Linked DNA regions of Homo sapiens: all the other regions are reported to be linked to region 2. Evidence: microRNA targets listed by miRTarBase, many of them from high-throughput screens and not tested one by one. Region 2 holds a microRNA gene; each other region holds the end of a gene's coding sequence.
What was found. The annotated mature microRNA hsa-miR-520d-3p reads AAAGUGCUUCUCUUUGGUGGGU and lies in region 2 at 2,474-2,495, shown strand. An mRNA with a match to its seed (bases 2 to 7 or 8) in the 3' UTR can be bound and repressed. Matches are read on the target gene's strand: a 7mer-m8 pairs with bases 2 to 8, a 7mer-A1 pairs with bases 2 to 7 and ends in A, and an 8mer does both.

Region 1: the mRNA of FOXK2 is a reported target of hsa-miR-520d-3p. Seed matches in the 3' UTR shown: 7mer-A1 at 1,112-1,118 and 7mer-m8 at 2,093-2,099.
Region 3: miRTarBase lists GDF11 as a target of hsa-miR-520d-3p. Seed matches in the 3' UTR shown: 7mer-m8 at 3,034-3,040, 8mer at 2,125-2,132, 7mer-m8 at 790-796 and 7mer-m8 at 100-106.
Region 4: miRTarBase lists KPNA2 as a target of hsa-miR-520d-3p. Seed matches in the 3' UTR shown: 7mer-m8 at 3,137-3,143.

Annotation. Positions count from the first base shown.
Region 1 is chr17:82,601,178-82,605,177 of GRCh38, forward strand. It overlaps FOXK2 (forkhead box K2), which reads left to right. Exons shown (of 9, transcript NM_004514.4): 9 at 126-3,425. The coding sequence ends at 322. Among named protein-coding and RNA genes, the nearest start is that of FOXK2-AS1, 15 kb to the left of the region's middle. RefSeq lists a silencer at 1,845-1,954.
Region 2 is chr19:53,717,676-53,721,824 of GRCh38, forward strand. It overlaps MIR520D (microRNA 520d), which reads left to right and starts at 2,421; the gene lies at 2,421-2,507. It overlaps MIR517B (microRNA 517b), which reads left to right and starts at 3,401; the gene lies at 3,401-3,467. It also overlaps the pseudogene RNU6-803P.
Region 3 is chr12:55,749,626-55,753,625 of GRCh38, reverse strand. It overlaps GDF11 (growth differentiation factor 11), which reads right to left. Exons shown (of 3, transcript NM_005811.5): 3 at 1-4,000. The coding sequence ends at 3,744. It also overlaps a transcript of SARNP not described here. Among named protein-coding and RNA genes, the nearest start is that of GDF11, 8.5 kb to the right of the region's middle.
Region 4 is chr17:68,045,840-68,049,839 of GRCh38, reverse strand. It overlaps KPNA2 (karyopherin subunit alpha 2), which reads right to left. Exons shown (of 11, transcript NM_002266.4): 10 at 3,919-4,000; 11 at 2,986-3,336. The coding sequence ends at 3,244. Among named protein-coding and RNA genes, the nearest start is that of KPNA2, 12 kb to the right of the region's middle. RefSeq lists a silencer at 1,400-1,600.

The DNA of each region.
Region 1 (4,000 bases), not on the chromosome of region 2:
GAGGGCGAGAGTTCACATGAGAGCGTGGGGTTCTGACTCGCGAGGGTTCACGTGAGAGCGTGGGGTTCTGAGTCGCGAGGGTTCACGTGAGAGCGTGGGGTTCTGACTCCCTCGTGTCATTTCAGCCGCGGCGAGTCCTTTGCACATGTTGGCAACACACGCATCCGCATCGGCCTCCCTGCCCACAAAGCGCCACAACGGTGACCAGCCGGAGCAGCCGGAGCTGAAGCGGATCAAGACAGAAGACGGCGAGGGCATCGTCATTGCCCTGAGCGTGGACACGCCACCGGCAGCCGTAAGGGAAAAGGGTGTCCAGAACTAGCGACCGGGAGAGCTTTTCTTTAACGATATCAACTCTGTGGTGCCAAAAGGAGACGCGGCCTCCCGCCAGCACTCGGGGGTGCAGGGCCCTGTGGTTGGACTTCACCTCTCAGCACTGAAAACCCAAAACCCAGCTGGCCTTAACACTCCTTAAAGACAGAAGTCACACTTGAACAAAACCCACACACAACAAAACCTGATTTGGGAGACGGTGTCTCCACTGAGCACCTGCTGGGCTGAGCTTCTACCTACGAGTGAAACTCTGTCCTCCCGCGAGGACCAGGCATCGCTGTGTGAGGACGGCACGGCCAGCGCCTGCTGTGAGTGGGTCTCCCAAGACTAGGCCTCAGGACGCGGGGGGAGCCATCCCCGCCGCCCTCACAGGACCCACCAGGCAGCGGAGACATGTGGAATTAGAGTATTTTGAGGTGTCCTTTCTTTACAAAATAATGGGGTCTTGGGCATTTCACATCACTCCATTTCTACTGAGACTTTCAGAATCACACAGGCCCTTTCCGTGGATTTCATTTGGGGCAAAGAAACAACGTAGTTTTGTTTTTGTTTTCAGCCTATGGAATGATTTCCTTTTGTCTGTCTTGTTCAAGTTCAGACGAAGCTACTCTGGCATCTGCACATTTCCGTGTTACAGCAGCTGCCTGATGAATTTTATCCACCTCCATTTCAGCATGTGGCTCGCGTGGACAGGTGGACGGACGCTGTGGCCGCATGGAACCTTGAGAACCCAGGGACGAGCCAGTGCCGGGAAGGAACTGCCGGGACTCACCGAGCTGCACTTAACTGTTCTCTTTCTGGCTATTTTTTGTTGTTTGTTTCTTTGTGTTGACTTTGTCCCTGGCAAAATTTTCCACTCTGAGTAAAACAAGTCTCCTAAGTATTGTGTATGTTTAAAACGACAGAACCATTTCTACTTCATTTGGAAAAAGATTCAGTCTTTTATCACAGGCCCTTTTGAAACTCAGATCCCAGGTCTCTCCGTGGTATGTTTGTATTTGGGGTGTCCCTCCGGCTCTAGGCGGCCTCTGACCTGCTGTCTACTCCCCACCTTCGGTGAGCGGCCGCCATGGTGGAGCAGGGTCCGAGCCACGTCCTGCAGGGCACGTCTGGGGCATTTCCTGTTTTGTGGTAGGAAATGTCCCTGACCTTTCAGAACCGAACCCAATCCTGAGGCTGACTCCTCTACGGAAAATGAGGACAGGACGGGGGTGAGGGAATGAGAGTGGGAGGTCCCTGCACCTCCTCGCCCGGCTCCTCAGGAAGAAAACCGCTGGCCCTTCCCGAGTGTGCCGGCCGAGGGCCGAGGGCCGTGCACATGGGGAGAGGGCGTCAGCCTGATGGCTGAGCTTTTAAATGTCATCATCATAACATTATTTATTTAAATGTAGTTATTTTGGTATTTAATTTTTTTTTAGAGAGGAAAAAACCTGTATTTTCCTGGTGGGATGAAATAGGGATGAAATGGCTCAGAATGGTATATTTAGGCAATTTTAAAACATTTATTATTTACATAAAGACCAAATATGATGAATCTGTTCCGTGAATTGTGTCGGCCCTCAGCATGGGGCTGGGGCAGCGTCACTGCGGTGACGCCCATTGAAAGGTATGAAATGACTGCACACTAGCTGGATTATCACTCAGCCGTTTAAGAAATAAAAGCAAAACCATCACGTGACTGAGACCGTGTGTGTGACCGCAGCAAAGCGCAGCGTGTGGATGGATCAGAGCCCCTCGGTGCAGCTGTCTGCATCTTCCAAGCACTTTACAGATACCTTGGAATGTATATTTTTGTCTTCTTACTCAGAAGGTTTGCAGTTTGTAAAATAATCAGGATTCTGCTCTGTCCTGTGTGTGGGGTCAGCTCCCTCCACAGAGGGCTCCAGCTCTGTTGGTCACAGCTGATGGGGTTCTCTGATTGATAGGAGACGAGCTCTTGAGCTCTAAGGAACAGTGAGGTCGCCGGTGGGGAGCTTGGCTGGGACACCAAGCAAATGCATCGTATGTCCCCTTGGAGACGTTTTTATGCAGCTGTGTATGTTACTATCCAGAAGGAGTCGGGGGTAGACTTTCCCGTGTAAGCTCAGTCCATAAACTGGTTACTTCTGATCCTGGAACGTGGACTTCACATGATAGGTCTGGATCTGTTTCTGTTGGGATCACAGGTAAGGAAAATGTCCATTCAAATGGTAAAGAAGGGAGGAGGGTGTTTTTTTTTTTTTTTTTTGCCGTAGGCACCATTCTGCATCTTGAACCCAGACTGAAGTGTGCCTCTCACAGATGGAAGGTGCACACGCTCCTGTCTCCTCCTCACTCTGCCACGTTCACTTGGCTTTTTCATTGGTACCTAGGAATTTAAGAATATCGAAGCGAGAGCAGTAACAAACCATAGATGAGCAGACTCCCACACCGGGTTTTCTTGCCCGTCTTTAAGGCACTGTTTCTAAATTTTGAACTTAGCTCTGAATCCCCAAGAACTTGAGCACAGCAAGGGTTGCTGAGCTGCTGTCGCCGCAGCCCTGGCCCCTGGTGCTGGAGCTGCAGCACCTTTGGGAGAGGTCCTGCGTCGTCCTCAGCTGCGTCGCTGTGAACTCCCGCTCTCCACTGTGTTCCTCAGTGTCTGCTTTTCAGGAAGTCTGCTGTGACCTTTGCCCAACTTCTGAGCTCCTCAGGGACTAGGAACAATTTCAGTAGCTTTGCCCTGAACCAAACGAGAAAACAAAAGGGAACTCCCGTATGACCCACGTCACGTGGTGCACTCAGAGTGTGTGCGGCATGATCCTCGGTTGCTCCTCCTCTCACTTTAGTAGAGTACGCGGTGGACAGCTGATCTCCTTCAGTCGTCTACCCACTTCCGTCATTGTCCTCCGCTAGAATAACAGAGTAGTTGGTAGTCATGGCCAGAAGGGGGGTGGGGGCAGTGTGAGGACTTGGGGTTTCTGTGCTGTGTGACACAAGGAGATAAGTGACAATCTTGAAGTCCTAACTTCCACTATTCTAGAAAGTATAGTGGTGATTTGTGTGCAAAGATTTGAAGTTTTAAAAAAGTACCAAGTTCCTGAAATTCAATAAAATATTTTTATTAATTTTAATGGAATGCAGAGTATCATTTTCATTTTGATTGACTGACTTTTTACTTCATGCTCTCTTCTGAGCACACCGGAGGCCTAGCGCATTGGCAAGAACTTAACCAGGGAGCTGCACTGAGGACCAGCACTGCAGGCCCTGCCAGTGGGACAGCGGGTTGAGCGTGCAGGTAGAAAAGGCGCCGTGTCACAGGCAGTGGTAACAGGGTCTTGATTGATTGATCTATGATGTCGGAGTTTTAAAGTTACTTGGAGATTGTGGCTGCCACTATTTCTTCTGCAGACTTTCTCTCCAACCTGAGAATGAAGATCACTGCAAAGCATCTTGAGGGACATTTTCTCAGAAAATGAAAAAGCAGCTCTTGGCCGGCGCGGTGGCTCATGCCTGTCATCCCAGCACTTTGGGAGGCCGAGACGGGCAGATCATGAGGTCAGGAGATTGAGAACATCCTGGCTAACATGGTGAAATCCCATCTCTACTAAAAATACAAAAAAAATTAGCCGGGCGCAGTGGCGGGCGCTTGTAGTCCCAGCTACTCGGGAGGCTGAGGCAGGAGAATGGCGTGAACCTGGGAGGTGGA
Region 2 (4,149 bases):
ATAAGGGGGTGGGGGACCTCATTGTCCCTTGCAGATGGGATGTGCCCTGCTTAGCAAGAGCACGGAGGTGGAGTGCATGGCTTTGAGTTTTCACTGGGGCACGGAGGTGGAGTGCATGGCTTTGAGTTTTCACTGGGTAAATGCAGCTGAACTCTTGGCTGCACGACCAGGTCATATGTGCAACGAGACAGGGGTCTCACTATGCTGCCCAGGCTAAAATGGGCTTAGGTCCTTTTGCCTCCACCTCTCCCCAGTCCTTAGTAGCTGGGACTACATGTGAATATTAACCATGCACAGGCAAGAGGAAAGAAAGGACCGTTCTTTGGTTCACACCTAGCCGCCAGTCAAATTAGTATTTTAGATGAAGACTGCATTTGAGACATACTTGAACAACAAATGATTTGCTGTTTAGGTGTGGGCATCTTTCTTTTTTCCTAGTTTTAATAATGGCACCAGGCAGAGTACAGTGGCCCACGCCTGTAATTCCAGCACTTTGGGAGGCTGAGACAGGAGGATCACCTGAGGTCGGGAATTTGATTCCAGCCTGGCCAACATGGTGCAGCCCCATCTCTACTAAAAATACAAAATTAGCCCAGCATGGTGGTGGTATATGCTTGTAATCCCAGCTACTCTGGAGGCTGAGGCAGGAGAGTCGCTTGAAGCTGGAAGGCTGATCTTTCAATGAGCTGAGATCACGCCACTGCACTCAAGCCTCGGCAAAAAGAGTGAGACTCCATCTCAAAAACATAAAAAATAGGCCAGACACGGTGGTCCACTCCTGTAATCCCAGCACTTTGAGAGGCCAGGACAGGCGGATCTCCTCAGGTCAGGAGTCCAAGACTAGCTGGGCAAACAAGGCAAAACCTCGTCTATACTAAAATTAGGAAAAATGGCTGGGAACAGTGGTGGACACCTGTAATCTCAGCTACTTGGGAGGCCACGGCAAGAGAATCTCTTGAACCTGGGAAAAGGAGATTGCAGTGAGACGAAATCACACCATTGTACTCCATCCTGGGTGACAGAGTGAGATTCTGTTTCAAAAATTAAATAAATAGGCCGAGCACAGTGACTCATGCCTGTAATCCCAGAACTTTGGGAGGCCGAGGTGGCGGATCACCTGAGGTCGGGAGTTCAAGACCAGCCTAACCAACACGTAGAAACCCCATCTCTACTAAAAATACAAAATTAGCCGGGCATGGTGGCGCATGCCTGTAATCCCAGCTGCTCGGGAGGTTGAGGCAAGAGAATCACTTGAACCCCAGGGGGCGGAGGTTGTGGTGAGCCGAGATTGTGCCATTGTATTCCAGCCTGGGCAACGAGTGAAACTCTGTCTCTAAATAAATAAATAAAACTATTAAATAAACATTAAACGTTAAAAAATAAAAATAGATAAATATGAGATCATCATGAATTTGAGTGTCACCTTTGCGCAGGGCCCATGGTAATCTTTGTCATTCCAATTTTTTCATGCGTGCTGCCAAAGCTAGCACTTGTGTGTAGGAAGTATTCTTCCTGTGAGCATACAATATATGGAAGTTTCTTTTATTATTATTATTTTTTATGTTTTTGCGACTGAGTTTTGCTCTTGTCGCATAGGCTGAAGTGCAATGGTGTGATCTGGGCTCCCTGCGATGTCCACCTCTTGGGTTAAAGCGACTCTCCTACCTCAGCCTCCTGAGTAGCTGGGATTACAGGCATACACTTCCAGGGCTAGCTAATTTGTTGTATTTTAGTAGACGGGATTTCTCCATGTTGGTCAGGCTGGTCTCAAACTCCCGACTTCAGGTGATCTGCCCACCTTGGCTTTCCAAAGTACTGGGATTGCAGACAGCCACCGCGGCTGGCCTTCATATATTCTTATATATATAATATCATGTACACACAAAAGACTCTTTTACACCCTGAGAATACTCTTATATCACTTTGGGCATTTTTTTGTTGGTGTGTGCATTTTTTGTTTGTTCGTTCGTTTGTTTTTGAGACAAGATCTGGCCCTGTCACCTATGCTGGAGTGCAGTGGTGTGATCTCGGCTCCCGGCAACCTCAACCTCCCACCTCAGCCTCCTGAATTAGTGTCTACAGGCATGCACCTCTATACCTGGCTAACTTTTGTATTTTTACAGATGAGGTTTTACCATGTTTCCCAGGCTGGTGTCTAACTCCTGAGAATATAAGGTATATGTAGTAGGCGTTGCTTTTTCTCTTTGAAGACAAAACCCAGGACAGTTGTCCCTCGATGAACAAGGCTAACCTGCTGAACGTTTGAAGCAAGGAACTGGAGATGGTCTTTGTATCGGTTTATGTTCTAGATTCCAGAAAATATGCAAACAGGACCAATAAATGCATCTTTATTTTTGTGTCCATTTTGACCAGGTCAAGGAAAATTTCAACAAGAAACCCAGAGTGCCGGAGCAAGAAGATCTCAAGCTGTGAGTCTACAAAGGGAAGCCCTTTCTGTTGTCTAAAAGAAAAGAAAGTGCTTCTCTTTGGTGGGTTACGGTTTGAGAAAAGCAACGTTGAAGTTGATGCTGATTTCGGTAATACATTTGCAGAGCATGCTTATCACACTTGGACGATGGTGGGGTTCTGTTTTGGTTTTGCTTTTTTATTCTAAGGCTCTGTGTTGCTCATGCTGGAGTGCAGTGACATGTCCAATATATCTCTTGGCTTCAAATGGTCAGCCTGGGCAACACAGGGAAATTCTGTCTCAAAAAATAAACAAATGAATAAAAATACAAAATAAAGCCGGGCATGGTGGCTCATGCCTGTAATCCCAGCACTTTGGGAGGCCGATGCAGGTAGATCATCTCAGGTCAGGAGTTTGAGACCAGTCTGACCAACGTGGTGAAAATCCGTCTCTACTAAAAATACAATAACAACAAAAATTAGCCCAGTGTGGTGGTGGGCACCTGTAATCCCAGCTACTTAGGAGGCTGAGGCAGGAGAATTGCTTGAACCCGGGAGGCAGAGGCTGCAGTGAGCCGAGATTGTGCCACAGCATCCAGCCAGGATGACAGAGTGAGATTCCGTCTGAAAAAAAAAAAAAAAAAAAAAAGCTGGGCGCTGTGGCTCACGCCTGTAATCCCACCACTTTGAAAGGCCGAGGCGGGTGGATCACGAGGTCAGGAGATCGAGACCATCCTGGCTAACACGGTGAAACCCCATCTCTATTTAAAAATACAAAAAATTAGCGAGGCGTGGTGGTGGGTGCCTGTAGTCCCAGCTACCCGGGAGGCTAAGGCTTGAGAATGGCTTGAACCCAGGAGGCGGAGCTTGCAGTGAGCCGAGATCGTGCCATTGCACTCTAGCCTCGGCAACAGAGCAAGACTCCGTCAAAAAGAAACAAAAACAAAAACAAAAAAAAGAACCCTACAGTACTGGAGCAAGAAGACCTCATGCTGTGACCCTCTAGATGGAAGCACTGTCTGTTGTCTAAGAAAAGATCGTGCATCCCTTTAGAGTGTTACTGTTTGAGAAAAGCAACGTTGAAGATGCTGCTGATCTTGGTAATACATTTGCAGAGCGTGCTTATCATCAGACTTGCATGATGTTGGGGTTCTCTTTGGTTTGTTTTTTTCCAAGACAGGTTCCCTGTTGCCCAGGCGGGAGTGGGTGGCACCTCCAACCGAGATCTCTTGGGCTCAAGTGGTGATCTTTTTATTTTTGATTTTTTGAGATGCGCTCTCATTCCGTTTCCCAGGCTGGAGTGCAGCGGCAGGATCCCTGTTGACCGGAAACTCCGCCTCCCAGCTTCCGGCGATTCTCCCACCTCAGCCTGCCGAATAGTTGGGAATAGAGATGCCCGCCATCGTGTCCTGCTAGTTATTATTTTTATTGTTGTTGTTGTTGTTGAGATGGAGTTTCACTCTTGATGTCCAGGCTGGAGTGCAGTGTTGCAATTTAGGCTCACTGCAACCTCCACCTCCTGGGTTCAAGCGATTCTCCTGCCGCAGCCTCCTGGGTAGCTGGGATTACAGGTGCCTACTGCCCCACCCAGCTAATTTTTGTGTTTTGAATAGAGACTGGGTTTCACCATGTTGGGCAGGCTGGTCTCAAACTCCCGACCTCAGGTGATCCACCAGCCTTGGCCTCCTAAAGTGCTGGGATTACAGGCGTGAGCCACCGCCCCTAATCTCACGTGGTCCTCTA
Region 3 (4,000 bases), not on the chromosome of region 2:
GCTAATTTTGGGTATTTTAGTAGAGATGAGGTTTCACAATGTTGGCCAGCATGGTCTCGAACTCCGGACCTTGCATGATCCGCCCGCCTCGGCCCCCCAAAGTGCTGGGATTACAGATGTAAGCCACTGCGCCCAGCCAGCTTTCCTTATTTTTGAAAAATGTGAGTCAGGCAATATTCTTTTGCCATTCCCAACTCATATTCCTGGGGAATTGTGCTCTAGGTACATGGGAAAAATTTTTACAGTGAACTGAAAGAATATTTGAGATGCTATTTTAGCCACTCTTGTGTAACAAGGCAAGTTCGTTGGCTATGTTGGTTTAGATTTTTGTCAAACTTCGTTGAGGAAACCTAGGAACAGGGACTGCAGGAGAATAGGACACTAGCTGGATCATCTCAAGAGAACCTTTAGATCTTCCATACTAGCTGGATCATCTCAAGAGAACCTTTAGATCTTCCATTCTGTGGAGGCTGGGAGAGGGGTCTTGTTGTCTTTGGGACTGTTTTGGCTCAAGCTTTTCAGAGAGGGGTTGTTCTAGGTACCCCCAGTTTCCTGTCCTCTTTCCATCCTTCCTTGGCCTGCATGTCCCAAACCTTATACCACCATGCCCTTAGTGTTTTCTGTCTTGCTCCAGGACCCCATCTTCTTAGTCATTGAACACGAGGTTTCCTGTCTCAGATCCTCTTCACCTCCGGTTCTCCAAGGTGTAAATGTGGCACTTGATTAGGGAGAAGAGCTCAGCACTGAATTCTAAACTCTTTGACCGCTTTTATTTTTTTTTTCAGGTTCAAGTGCTGGATTGTGTCATGTGACCATCCCAAAACTCAGAGCACCCTATGGCCGTCTTTGCCCTCTGTCACATAACTTGAAAACTGCCTGATGGCCTTTTTGCAGTGGTTCCCTCCAGGAAGCCTTGATCTCAGTTGAAGAAGTTCTTTCCTGGCATTCCAATGCCCCTGTCAGCTCCATACTCCTCAGACACCCTTAACAAAGGCTGTCATGCACACAATGTGACAAATACACAAAATAAATGATAATTACACTAATAATGATATGTTCAGAGGGGCACTGGCCAGGTCCACACACATCATAAGGTGGGAGGGGGTGCTAACTCCCACTGGGTTGCTGAGCTGTGCCCCCCAAGTCCCTTCACTCTGTGCCTCTTTGGGGGTAGGGAGGAACAGGGGAATGAGACTTCAGCTCACAGATTTATGTTCATAAGAGAAAGACCCCTGCCCCCCCCCCACCCACCACACACACACAAAGGTCTTTATTTGGTGGTATTTAAGGAGCTGTATTCTAAGTGTCCCCCATATTTAATGCCCCAGCTCTCTAGAATCTGTAGAGGGAAGATACCTGATGCTTATTGCCCAATCCCTACTCTGCCAAGATCACGAGGCATTTGACCTTGGAGGGAGGTATCTGTTCTTCACTTCTCTGTTCCTTTCCTTCCACCAAGGAAATGTGAGTGGTGTTGATGGCCGGGTGTGTCTTGTCCTTCAGGATTGGGGCAGAAGGAAGGATGAAGAACAGGGCCAGAGAGGCTTGGGGTTAGCATAGCTGCTATATGGGTGAAGGCAAGCTGAAGAGCCTAACAGCCCTGCCCATTCCTCTACTGAAAGATCTTGTTTCACTTTCTCACTATAAGAATAGGAATAAGATGTTAAAGCTCACCAACATCACCTTCTCAAGGGTGGTCACATACCTTTGCCCCTTCCACCAACTGGCCAAGGGGGAGAGTCATGCTCTTGGGAAGAATGAGCCATCCAGTTTTGCTCACCAGCTTGGGCTTTACTTTAGTTCAGTACTGTTTTTATCAGACCCGTAACTGCTGGCTCTACTTAGAGTGACAGTTTTGCTGAAGATTCTTACCCCCACCTCTCCTGACATCCTCTAAGCTCTTGCCTGGAGCCAAGAGGCCTGGTGGTGAAGTAAGGATAGGGTGTGGATCAGGAGATTCTCAACTCCTTGGCTTCTAGGCACTGTCCAGCTGGGAGGCAGAGGGGAACTTGTACTCTGAAGCCTGTGACTCCTCTTAAGCCTCACATCTCTTCACCACTACTCTGGTGCCCTGGTTATCTGTCCCACAGCGAGAGGTATTTTATGTCCATAAAGTGCCCGTGGTAAGTGCTCAGAATTCATCTCTTGGCTGTGGCGGGTGCTGTCATTTCTCATTCCATTGAGGGGAAGAAACTGAGGCACAGTGAGTCCAGAGGAGAATGGGTCAGGGTTGTGGGAGGAATGAATGGGCCTAGCTAGTGACTTGAAATGGCAACCAGTCTCTGCCTGCTTCCTAGCCTTCCAAGCCCGGGAGTCTCCATCCTTCCCATCCTCTGTTCTAACTGGCCTTGTCAGATGCTTTTCCCCACTGTACTTTCCCCTCCCTGCTGCCAGGTACTGTTAGATTCCAAAAATAAAAGGAAAAAATAATTATACACTCTGCTTCCTTGTTCTCCCCTCTTCCACCCTGAGCTTTGGGGTTAGGAGACTAAAATGTCCCCCTTCCAGAATCCTTCCCACCTTGGTCTGCTGGCTCTATTCCCTAGCCCAGAGCAGTGATTTGGATTCAAATGCCCTGTAACCTTCAGCCTCCTTACTGCTCCTTTCTTGACCTCTCCTAACGCTTTCCAGACCCAGGGGACTCTGGGGTCTCTATACTCTCTCTAATTGACCTGAAGATAGAGGCTGGGAGCAGGGCCATTCCAGAGGCTCTTTGGTCTCTCTCTTGGCTGAGGGAATTTGGGCATAAGCAGGCTGCACCCTCTGGCTAAATAACTCAGCATCATGAGGGTGGACCTGAGGGTTTAAAGTAGCTCTCATTATATAGATCCTGGATGTTGAGGGTTCTCTCTCCCACCCCCGCATCCCCAGCTCTTAAACCCTAACCTCTTACTATTTCCATGACAACTGGCTTCAATTCAAGCCATTTGGCTCAGAAAAGGTTGAGTTAGGGTGATGATGGGTTAGAAACTAAACTTCATGTGTCCGCCCTCTTGCCCTTTACTCCCATTCCCAACCCTGGAGGCTTTATACAAGTGCTTAAGTGAGTAGGTGTTGGGGAGAGCAGGGTTTGGGGAATAAGGGATAAACGGGGCACAGTGGGCAGGGGCCCTCCTATTCCAGTAAAGCCAAATACCAAAAAAATGAAAAGTCACAATAAATAAATAAATAAAAATTCCCAAATCTTTTTGCCCCTGCCCTCACTTCCCCTTCCCCTGGCCACTGTTGGAGGGAGAGAAGGAGAAAAGAATGGATTTTTGATTTCTTCTCCTACTGAATAGTCAGGGGATCTCCCCAAACTATACCAAGCCCCTCACCTTGCCAGTGGAAGAAAGGAGGCTTGGTGTGGGGCTTTCATTTATTACTCCATTTCAGTCTCTTTCTCAGTGTTTTGTCTCTGCCTCGTCTGTCTCTTCTGCCTCTCTCTTTGCCTTCTCACTGCTGCTCTTTTTGTTCCTCTGTCTCTATCACTGTCTCTACATCTCTCTGTCTTTTTGTCAAACCTTCTCATCTGCAAACTTCAAACACTCCCCACCCTGACTATGCCCCTGCTTCCCCTTTCCCCCAAACCCCTCACCCTCAATTCCCACCTGCCTCCCTCTGTTGTATTGCACACGGCTTGGTCGGGGAACGGTGTGATGTTCGCGGGAAGAGTGGAGGGAGCTCTAGGGCTTGGGGGGATGGGGGCAGGGCTAGGGGTCTTGGGGTAGGGTCTGTGGGGGAGGCATCCTCTATCCCCCACCTTAAGAGCAGCCACAGCGATCCACCACCATGCCAGGGATCTTGCCGTAGATAATCTGCTGCTTGTCATTGAAGTAGAGCATGTTGATTGGGGACATCTTGGTGGGGGTACAACAGGGCCCAGCAGAGCCTCTTGGATTGGCCTGCTGCACCAAATGGGTATGCGGATATTTTTGCATGAACATGTACTCGCACTGGCCGGAGCAGTAGTTGGCCTTGTAGCGCTTAGGTGCGATGATCCAGTCCCAGCCGAAAGCCT
Region 4 (4,000 bases), not on the chromosome of region 2:
TGGTGTGGTGGTGCATGTCTGTAATCCTGGCTACTCGGGAAGCTGAGTCGGGAGAATCTCCTGAACCTGGGAGGCGGAGGTTGCAGTGAGCTGAGATCACACCATTGCACTCTAGCCTGGGCAACGAGAGCAAAACTCCATCTCAAAAAAAAAGAAAAAGACCATCTCATTCGTACATGTTTTTCTACATTTCTCCTCTATTTCAACAGTTTTGCTTTTAAAATATGTATTTTTGCAGCCACAATCGGGAGATGCCTTCTGGATATCATCCTTTGACCATTAATTTTAATTTTGAATTGATTCAAAGTTTTCTCATTCATCCAATCTTTCCTCATATTCCCTTGTTTTTATGGATAAGCTTCCAATATTTCTGCCTAAACTTGTTCAAGTTCTAAACATGAGTTTCTTCATAGTAGAAAATATGGCTTTGTGGTGGCTGTCTCAACAGTCAAGTGTTTGCTCATTAAAGAAACTTCATTAACACTAGTATTAGGGGCCTATCAGGTATTGATACTGACAAGCTTCCATCACCAAGTTGGACTTGGGTGGTTCAGTCCTGTTCTCATGGCCAATGAGAAGTTAGGGGAGGAGGTGCTCCAATTATTACGTCCAATAGAATTAAGAGAAAGGGAACCAGTGGGCACAGGAAGACAGCTGGACCTCTCACTGAGATACTGCAAAGGCTAACAGCCAGTCTAGGAACTTAGTCACAGTGGGCCCTCCTTGAGCCAGTTCCACTGTTCAGAAAGCTATGCCAAGCCCCTAAAAGACCTAAAGGCTGACAAAACATCTGACTTTTCGGTAGAATCCCATCATTAAGTATATGAACAATCCAGTATGGTCATCTTATGTTATGTGTATCTGACTGATAAGGGGGAAAAAAAAAGAAGAGTAATAATCAACTTAGCCTAGAAGGTAAAATATATCAAAACAAGAGTCTATGTAAGAACAAACAGAAATCTTTGGTGTTAAAAGGTTGGAGGCAGCCAGGTGCAGTGGCTCATTCCTGCAAATCCCAGCACTTTGGGAAGCTGAGGCAGGAGGATAGCTTGAGGCCAGGAATTTGAGACCAGCCTGGGCAACACAGCGAAACTTTGTTTCTTCAGTTATTACAGCTATTCCCAAAAACAAAAAGTTTGGAATAGCCGTAATACTCATCTAGGATATTTCTATTATGTAGGAATTAGTATCTATACTTTTCTTATGCCAGCACTTAGCTGCCCCACCAAAAGGTCTTTCACTGACACAATAAAGAGGCAGGATTTGAATTCAGACAGATCTGGCTCTTAAATACTAGTCCACTTCACTGCACCATGCTACCTCCCACAACTAGGATGGGAAAAGACATTTACGATTGTGAAAAGCCTGGAACGCACGAACTGATCAGTTTAAGAGGGTTCGATGCATACACCTCCTACACAGTGTTATGAAACTGTCCCAAATATTTAGGAGGAACTGAGCGTTCAGACACTAGAATTAGCTTTCAAACTATGCCAACATGTCATTTAACATGCAAGTGCTCAAAATTAAATTGCACTTCTGCCCTCAAAAAACCCTAGTTGATAGCTTGGGTGTTTCTTATCATTTTTATTAGCTGGGGTTATGAAACTTAAATGGGTGATGTTGCTAAAACACTTTTCTCTAACACTTTCCCATGGGGAGTTAGAGGGAGGCTGCATGATTTGGCCGGGTTTTGTTCATCACAAATTAGGTCAACAGCCCAATCCCAAAAGAAAGCACCATTAGTGAAATGACACGTTTCAAGGGCTTTCCAAAATCAGTCCACTGGGTTTTGGCAAGCTCCAGCAAGGGTGGAGAGGGGTAAGGAGCAGCCAGGCCTTAATGGCCTTCTGAACTTGGGTCCTGTATCTGACAAGGTTTCCAATGGCTCCTATGAACAAAACTGACTTTGCTCTTACTGCTGTTATGCAATTAAAGCAGCCAAATGCTGAAATAAAAAATCTTAACAATAAGGATTTACAGTAACGAAAAATTACCCCGTTTTTTCTTCAGTGATGATGCAGCCAGATTGATGAGAGAAAAAAAAAATCAACATTAGGAAACAGAATGTTGATTTCCTTTGTTCTAAAAATAATCAAGTAGCCTGATTATTTTTAGCCAAAATGCAATATAGCAATGAAAGAATACTTTGTGAAATGTTTAACACTGACATCTTTTAATGTTACTCTTTTCAGATTATTTCAACAAGCAAAGTAAGTGTCAGCAGTTTTTACTATAATTGCCAAATGGTATTAGGAATATTACCTTTCCTCCCTTGCTTACAACAAAAACAAATACAAAAATTAAAGTTATAGGTAAAGATATATTATCAAAGGGGATTTTTTTTTAGACAAGAGTCTCGCTCTTGTCACCAAGGCTGGAGTGCAGTGGCGCAATCTCAGCTCACTGCAACCTCCGCCTCCGGAGTTCAAGCGATTCTCCTGCCTCAGCCTCCTGAGTAGCTGGGATTACAGGCTCCCACCACCATGCCTGTAATCCCAGCTAATTTTTTGTATTTTTACTAGAGACAGGGTTTCGCCTGGGTGACAGAGCGAGACACCATCTCAAAGAGTAGTGGCTATCAACCTACACTGTACAGGAGCCCTTGGGAATTACATTTTTAAAAAAGACACATGGTGGACCCTCATGCCCCTCATCAACGAAACAGAACTGGGTACTTTCCCAGATGAGGCCCATGTGCAGCCGTGATTTACCTTGGAACCCCATTCGGCCTTGAAGTTTGGGAGGAAAGAATTCCATTTGTAGCTCCAGCAGAGATTTATGATTAAATTTACGGTGTTTAGCCCATCTCCCTGGCCAAGGAGACTTAAGGAGACACTGGCTGAGGGTTTCCAGAAAATGTTATTCATTCTTCTGCAAAAACTGCAGCCAGGACTACCTCTGGTTAATCCCATCAGTTTGGACAGGTTACCTTTCACTAGCAACATTAAAGGCCCCAAATTAGAAAGCAACACATAGGCATGGTGAAGTCAAGAAAAGGGTGGACTTGAATGTTTATTTACAGGATGCTGCAAGATAGGAAATTCCACATAGAAATTAGAAACCTAGTCAGAGGACAAGCTTCATACAGTATGTATGTACAGTTGGAACTGTTCAAGTATAGTTTCAGTGTAAAAAGTGCTACAGTAACAAACCACATTTAAGAAAGAGTTCTTAGTAGAGAAACAATAAGACAAAATACCAAACGTAGTACACAACAAATTTATGTCTCAGCTACATGATCTAAAAGTTAAAGGTCCCAGGAGCCCCATCCTGAACTTGGAAAGTGTAGCCTTCAGAGGTAGTTTCTGGTACAACGTTTTGATCTTCCTCTTCCTGGAAATATATTAAAAAATAAGTATAAAAATGATATAAGTATTCCAAGCAGCAGCCTACCTGAAGTCTGTATTTAATCTCTAGGTCTTGATCTGCATATTACACCTTTAATCCTGTATGATATTATAGTATTTGACATAGAGGAGGGAGGGTCTCTGAAACTTTGCCAATTCATAAATGCTAGCTACTACAGTAACACAAACAGGCCGAGATTTTTTTCTTCCCCAACCGTCACTTTTCAATAGGAAAAGACTGTATTAGGCCCAGAGCATGGTGATGAGTTTGGCCTACTTCTCTATCACCTCCTACAATGACACCCGTTAACTTACCCTCAAGATATTCTAAGATTCTCAAGGTTGTTCATTTGAAACTAATCTGGTGGCTTTTAAAATCTCAGTTTAAAAAGATTTTATTACCATCAAGCCAAACTAGAGGGGCAAATAAGTACATTATGTCCCATGCACACTGATATTTTACTATATTTAACAAAGATATGACACTTATTTTTAAAAGGGAAAAAAAGGCTTATGGCCTTGACTTTATGTTTCCAAGTTGTTATTAATATTACCATCCATTACTCACCTCTACAGAGAAATACTTCTCAATTAAGCTTAACGAAGCCTTATACACAGACTCATTTTCATGGTTTTGTAGAGCTTCAATT